Regions from separate parts of the Homo sapiens genome. Here region 2 is reported to be linked to region 1. Evidence: microRNA targets listed by miRTarBase, many of them from high-throughput screens and not tested one by one. Region 1 holds a microRNA gene; the other region holds the end of a gene's coding sequence.
What was found. Region 1 holds the annotated microRNA hsa-miR-4769-3p (UCUGCCAUCCUCCCUCCCCUAC, at 2,459-2,480, opposite strand). A microRNA usually pairs through its seed, bases 2 to 8, with sites in the 3' UTR of a target mRNA and lowers its output. Matches are read on the target gene's strand: a 7mer-m8 pairs with bases 2 to 8, a 7mer-A1 pairs with bases 2 to 7 and ends in A, and an 8mer does both.

Region 2: the mRNA of RAB7A is a reported target of hsa-miR-4769-3p. Seed matches in the 3' UTR shown: 7mer-m8 at 2,855-2,861.

What each region holds. Positions count from the first base shown.
Region 1 is chrX:47,586,565-47,589,955 of GRCh38, reverse strand. MIR4769 (microRNA 4769) reads right to left here and starts at 2,527; the gene lies at 2,451-2,527. The region is part of intron 5 of SYN1 (synapsin I); the gene reads left to right. TIMP1 (TIMP metallopeptidase inhibitor 1) reads right to left here. Exons shown (of 6, transcript NM_003254.3): 6 at 3,167-3,391. The coding sequence ends at 3,265. RefSeq lists a silencer at 2,372-2,666.
Region 2 is chr3:128,813,206-128,816,560 of GRCh38, reverse strand. RAB7A (RAB7A, member RAS oncogene family) reads right to left here. Exons shown (of 6, transcript NM_004637.6): 6 at 1,763-3,234. The coding sequence ends at 3,139. Among named protein-coding and RNA genes, the nearest start is that of MIR12124, 32 kb to the left of the region's middle. RefSeq lists an enhancer at 3,121-3,355.

The DNA.
Region 1 (3,391 bases):
ACATTATTTCCAATATCGTATATTATCATGCCTAATATCAAACATTGTTTGCAATATTATAAATAATCACTACTAAAGTTATAAGTTATAGTTATCATAACTACTTCTAGTAACTAATGCTTGTAAGTGCTATATGCCTAGCACTGTTCCAAGTACTTCACATATACAACCTCATTTAATATGGACATTGTCTCTATGAGTTAGGCCTTCTTTTTATCCCTGTCTTACAGATGCAGGAACTGAGGCTCAAAGAGGCAATATGATTTATTCAAGGACACAGAGCTAAGACATGGCAGGGGCAAGATTTGAATGCAGATGATCTGGCTCCAGGGTTCCTGCTTTTTTTTTTTTTTTTTTTTTGAGACGGAGTCTGGCTCTGTTGCCCAGGCTGGAGTGCAGTGGCTTGATCTCAGCTCACTGCAAGCTCCGCCTCCCAGGTTCATGCCATTCTCCTGCCTCTCGAGTAGCTGGGACTACAGGCGCCCACCACCATACTCGGCTAATTTTTTTTTTTTTTGGTATTTTTAGTAGAGACAGGGTTTCACCTTGTTAGCCAGGATGGTCTCGATCTCCTGACCTCGTGATCTGCCCACCTTGGCCTCCCAAATTGCTGGGATTACAGGCGTAAGCCACCATGCCCGGCCTTTTTTTTTTTTTTTTTGAGACAGTCTTGCTCTATCCCCCAGCCTGGGGTGCAGTGGCATGATCTCAGCTCCCTGCAACTTCCGCCTCCTGGGTTCAAACGATTCTTGTGCCTCAGCCTCCCAAGTAACTGGGACCACAGGGCATGCGCCACCACAGCTGGCTAAATTTTGTATATTTAGTAGAGATGGAAACCATGTTGGCCAGGCTCGTCTTGAACTCCTGACCTCGTGATCTGCCCACCTTGGCCTCCCAAAGTGCTAGTATTACAGGCGTCAGCCACCATGACTGTCCCATTTCCTGTGTTTTGACCCCCCCAAAAATATCCAAGGGGCAAAGACACCCCGTAAACATCCTCCAACCCCACCACAGACCTCTGAAGGATTCTGGGCCAGGACTGTGACGTCCATGTTTAAACATGGCGAGAAGGACTGAGGCTCAGGTGAGAGAAGGACTGGCCCCCCAGGCTCCCCACTGAGCTGGGTCCCATGCTGAATACCACATGGCTGTGACCCCTACAAGCTTCCTCTCAGCTGTCACAGAGTCTCTCCCAGAGATTCACCCACAGACACCCCGAATGCTGGGGATGGAGGATGCTCACTTGACCTATTTTAACAGATGTTCTACAAGAGCAATGGGGGATGTAATGAGCCCAGGGTTACAGATCCTGCCAGGAGCTCATGCCAGGTCTCTGGTGGAGGTAGCCTCGTCTGCTGTTCTGGGCTCTGTGTCCCCTGAGACCTGTTCTGGTCTCCGGTCCTCCCTGTCCATTCTGCATTGCACTTGGCGAAGGGCTGACCTGCAGGGTAGACAGGTCGGCAGGAGAACGACCTCCACGCTGGGTTCCATCCTTCCCCTGCTACTTCACCTTCCCCCTAGGGCTTGGAAGAGCTGAGGACTTAGGAAATGGGCCCTGAGGCCAGGGAGCAGCTTAAGAGTGCAGGTAGCTGACACTAAGGTTTGGCGAATTGCCAGGAGCGGTCAGCCTCTTGCAGGCAGCTGAGGGAACATTGACAAGGTCACCAGGGATGAACCAGGGCTCGGGCCCTTACCTTACAGTTGTGCCCATCAGCAAAGGCTGCGGTTGGCCCCTTCGGTGGACAAGGTTCAGACCCTCCGAGGGCGTAACCAAGGTGTAGATGTTGATGTAGAAATTGTTGCTGCATGCGCATTCCCTGCTTAAGTGGCTGAGTACTGTGTGTTCAAAATCTGCCCATTCCCATCCGGGACATAATTTGGGCCGTGGGGTAACCTCCCAGGAGTGTAAAAGGCTCTGGGACAGGACCACAGAAGATCCAGGGGGCTGTGCTTGGTGACCTAGAATGCCCTGGAGGAGACCTGGGTTCTTACTGGTAAGAGCAGTGGGTACTCTGATGAGAGGGAATTTGGGGGTCCTTTTCTTTACCAAAGGAGATATATTGGGGCCCTTTTCAAGCACGTTCAGGTCAGGAGGACACAGGTGCTCCATTGAATGTTTGCACCAGTCTGAAATTCTAGTTCCCAAGGGCCTCACTTGAGTCAAGACCTTTGGAGTATGAGGGGCAGGAGCCAGGGACTGGACCCCGCTGTGGAAGCAGGAAGGCCTCAGAGGGGAGTATTTGGAGGTTCTCTCACTCAGTTTTTCTAGAGAAAGGATGATTCATAAAGGTGAGGGTCGAGTCTAGAGACCCTAGTTTGGGTGAGGGGACAGTTGGGTTGAGGGAGGTGTGTGGAGGGTATGGGCCAGCATATCTGGCTGGTCTTAATTTTGAACCCTACCTGCATTTCATTGCTGTCAGTATTTCCTTCCAAGTTGGTCAGAGGAGTGAGGGGAGAAGTAGGGGAGGGAGGATGGCAGAGCTTGGGGATTTTTAGCTCATACCTTCTCTCCATCCCACCTCTCCTCTGCCCCAAACAGTCCCTTCCAAGGAATGTCCTGCAGCCATGGCTGGGGAGCCAGGGCCACCCCTTCTTCCCAAGTCCCCAGCTGGGTTACTGTGGGACTCTGGGTGCCCTGGGTCCCCTTTCACTCAAGTCAGACTCATGGTACAAAACCTGAGGATGAGGACAGTAACACCCACGTGTTTGGATGGGGCATCCTCACTGGACAACATCAGGACTGTGCTTGAGGCAATGATAGTCATTTGCCAATTGGTAGGGCATTTGTCAATGACTCTGTCAGCTGGCAAGATGTGTGAATGGGGAATTTCCAGTAAGGCAGTGATTTGTCAGCTGTGGGATAATTTATAACTAGAAAGCCCTGGGCAAATAGCAATTAGGAATCAGTATAGGAAAATGTTTTAAAGTATTGGCTGGAGAAATTATTCAGAGGTTACGGTTGATAATGCAGGTTCAGTGACCATTGCTGCTGTTGCAGATCATCAGTGCTAATGCCAATGTTGAGAATTACTACCAGTACATCAGAATTTAAGTAAAATATAAAAACCCAACATTTGGCATCCCTCATCCCCACTGGTCCCAGGGTGCTCACACCAGGTCATCAGCAACATGGGTTTGTTCCCAGGCACTACACAGAAACAGTGTCTGCTGGGTGGTAACTCTTTATTTCATTGTCCGGAAGAAAGATGGGAGTGGGAACAGGGTGGACACTGTGCAGGCTTCAGCTTCCACTCCGGGCAGGATTCAGGCTATCTGGGACCGCAGGGACTGCCAGGTGCACAGCCCTGGCTCCCGAGGCAGGCAGGCAAGGTGACGGGACTGGAAGCCCTTTTCAGAGCCTTGGAGGAGCTGGTCCGTCCACAAGCAATGA
Region 2 (3,355 bases), not on the chromosome of region 1:
CACAAAAGTAAATCCTTACTGCTTATTCCAGCAAAATGACAAGTTCCCCTCTTTTGAGAGAAAACACATGCTTATGCTGAATCTAAATAGGAATATAGAAAAAGGCACTGTGATGACTCTTAATGAGCATTAAGAGTCATCACCACTCCCTAATCTCAAGTACCCAGGGACACAAATGCTGCGGAAGGCCGCAGGGTCCTCTGCCTAGGAAAACCAGAGACCTTTGTTCACTTGTTTATCTGCTGACCTTCCCTCCACTATTGTCCTATGACCCTGCCAAATCCCCCTCTGAGAAACACCCAAGAATGATCAAAAATAAATAAATAAATAAATAAAATAAAATAAAAAAATAAAAAAAAGAAAAAGGCACTGTGTTGATGCAGAGCTCAGTCTCAGCCATGGCTCCCTATTGTGGTTAAGCTGAATCCCTTAGATGAACATTATACAATTTAGGGTTAAAATATGACACCAAGCTCAGCCATCAGGCTGATGGGACATGAGACTAATTAGTCCCAGGTCAGAGAGTAAGACCTATTGTCATGGTAGGGTTCCATGTTAACTTCAAAGTCAGGTGATGATTAGGGTCAGGAGGTGGGTCAGAGTCAAGGTCATTCAGCAGTGAACGTGTTTAGGGTAAAGTCAAAGCCAGTTCAAAGCCAAAGCCATTAAAATTAGGGTAAGTTATGATAAGGACAATGGTTGAAATCAGTCAATTAAAGATTACATTCATCTCAAGCTAAAGCAGGTTAATATCAGGATGATCATCAGTTTTAGGATGAAGGTCAAGCAGGTCAGAAGTCAAGGTCCATTTTAATGTCACATACAAGGTCAAGACCAGTGGAACACAATCAGAGGAATAGATGCCTGATTTGCAGAGGTGAGCATCACACAAGGGTCCACACCCTGTGGCCCAGTCACTGGGCCCCAAGCTGGAGAGAACTCTGCTCCTCTAGAGGACAAACACCTGATGAGGCCCAAGCAAAATATAGGACCAGAGAAGATTTAAGCCACCCAGCCAGGGTGGAATTGCACTGTGGATAATCTCACATTGTGCAGCATCTGAACTTCTAAACTATGCTATTTTTAACACATAAAGTACATGCCAAGAGGAGCCACGAGGAAAGAAACCAGCTGAGGAGCCTGAGAAGTGGAAATGTAGAAAAGTGTAGCAAAGTAGAATTCAAGATCTAACTCAATGAGGCACTTCTGCAAAACCTAAAGTGACTCACGACCTGAACTACTACTATTTTAATAAAATTGCTTCTAAGTGGCAACTATTCCATTCCAGGTGGGGGCTTACATATGTTGGAATACAGGGCCTCTGCTGCCAAATCTTCCTCTCCTGTGACAAATGCAGAATTACACATCTAAGTGTTAGCAACTAGGTCAACTAAAAATAAAACACATAACACATGACTAGGTTACAGTTACACCTACAGGATATGCATGGCTCAGAGTCCCCAGCAGTTTCTGGCTGCTCTCCTAAAGGGACAATGCGTTCTCCATCCATGGTCCTCAACCTCCAACAATGTGATTAAAATACACCCACCCCCGCCCCCGGAAAAAAAAACAAACAAAAAAAAACTAGGGACAGGCACTACAGGACCAGATATGAGAGGGCCTTTCTGCCTTGAAGCACCACACGTGCCCATTTATGGAGGGCTCTCTTGCTTGATAAGGCATTGACTATGATTAGCTCATGTGGTCTCTACTGAGCCAAGGCTCTTGAAGAAGGAAAAAAAGACTCTGGCAAAGGCAGATGATCATTGTTCTTGTTCAATTTTATTGGCATTGCGTTCATCTCTTTACAGAAGAACTCAGCCCACACCCTAGAATGTAGACCTTTGGAAAAAGGAGAAGTGCTCCGTTAAGCAAGCTACAATGCAGGGGCAGATCCTAGGAAGGGAGCAGAACTGCCAGGGTTCCAACCAAAGAAAGAGGTTAATTAATAATGGGCAATATTGGGGAGATGGGTGGGGAAAAGAGGAAAAAGCTCCGCTAACCTAAGAATACCACAACCCTGAAAGGAGCGCCTTCTAGAACAAAGGTAAAATCACTAGGACAGATCTGTTAGGGTTTTCCTTTCACTCTTGTAGTAGAATGCTGATCTAACGGGAGTTTTGAAGTGTGGAGCAGGGGGGAAAAAAAAGAAAGAAAATGAGAATTTTAATTTTTGAAATAACGGCAATTTATCCATTGCACATACCACTGTATTATGCAAATCAACGTTTTGGAAAATTTAGACACAGAAGGGAACTAGACAGTTTTCCCCCTGGAGAGATGAAAAGCTTTTTGGCTCTTAAGTCTTTGATAAAAGGCGTACATAATTCTTGTGTCTACTGTACAGAATACTGCCGCTAGCTGGATTTCCCAATTCTGAGTAACACTCTGCAATCCAAACAGGGTTCAACCCTCCACCTTACAGGCCTGCATTACAGGACTTAAACACATAATCCAAGAATTTCTTACACTAATTTATACATTTTAATTGGTTGCATATATTAACATGTACTATAAGATTCTTTTCTAAGAAGCATTACATAATAAATGGATACTGTAAAAAGATCTGATTAGTTAAAAGTAACAAGCATTAACAGATAGATACATACAAAACTCAGCCTGATCAGACTGGGTGTGAGCCTGTAATGGGGCATGGGGCACCAGCCTTCCCAAGGGGTAGCCTTCAAGGAGGGAGGGGAAAGGGGGGGTAAAAAGACCACAAGACCAATAAAAAAAATCAGATAATTAGACACAGATTAACTGTAAACAGTTCTCTCTCTCTCCAGTGAACAAAAAGAATAAGCTTCCAATGCCAACTCCATATCAGAATGACTTCCACCGCTGGCTTGTCCTGCTGCCATACTCGCGGGCTCATGTGGGTGGGCAGGCAGACCCCAAGGAGCCATCACGGGCAAGGGCTGGAGTTTGATTACGTCAGATCTGTGTGTGTGTGTGTGCGTGTGTGTGTGTGTGTGAGAGATATGTGGGGTGTAACTGTGTTTGATGGGGTTTTCTTTTGGCAGCTGGATGTGAGAGATCAATGTATGTTTTGTTTGGAAGAGGAGAGGGGAATTGTGTTGAAGGCCTACGTGTGTTCTTGGTTTGTGAAGGACTCTGTGCTCAACTCTCACTGCCCCCTCAGCAACTGCAGCTTTCTGCCGAGGCCTTGGCCCGGTCATTCTTGTCCAGTTTGATAGGTTCAGGAAATTCGTTGTACAGCTCCACCTCCGTTTCCTGGACAAGGAAACAGAGAAAGGTTGGTTACTCAGGGAATAGAAACATTTCAGCCCTCATTGCGGGCACTTTCTGCCCAGGAGGGGCTCACTTCTGCTTGGGCAGAGTGGGCGGGGAGCTG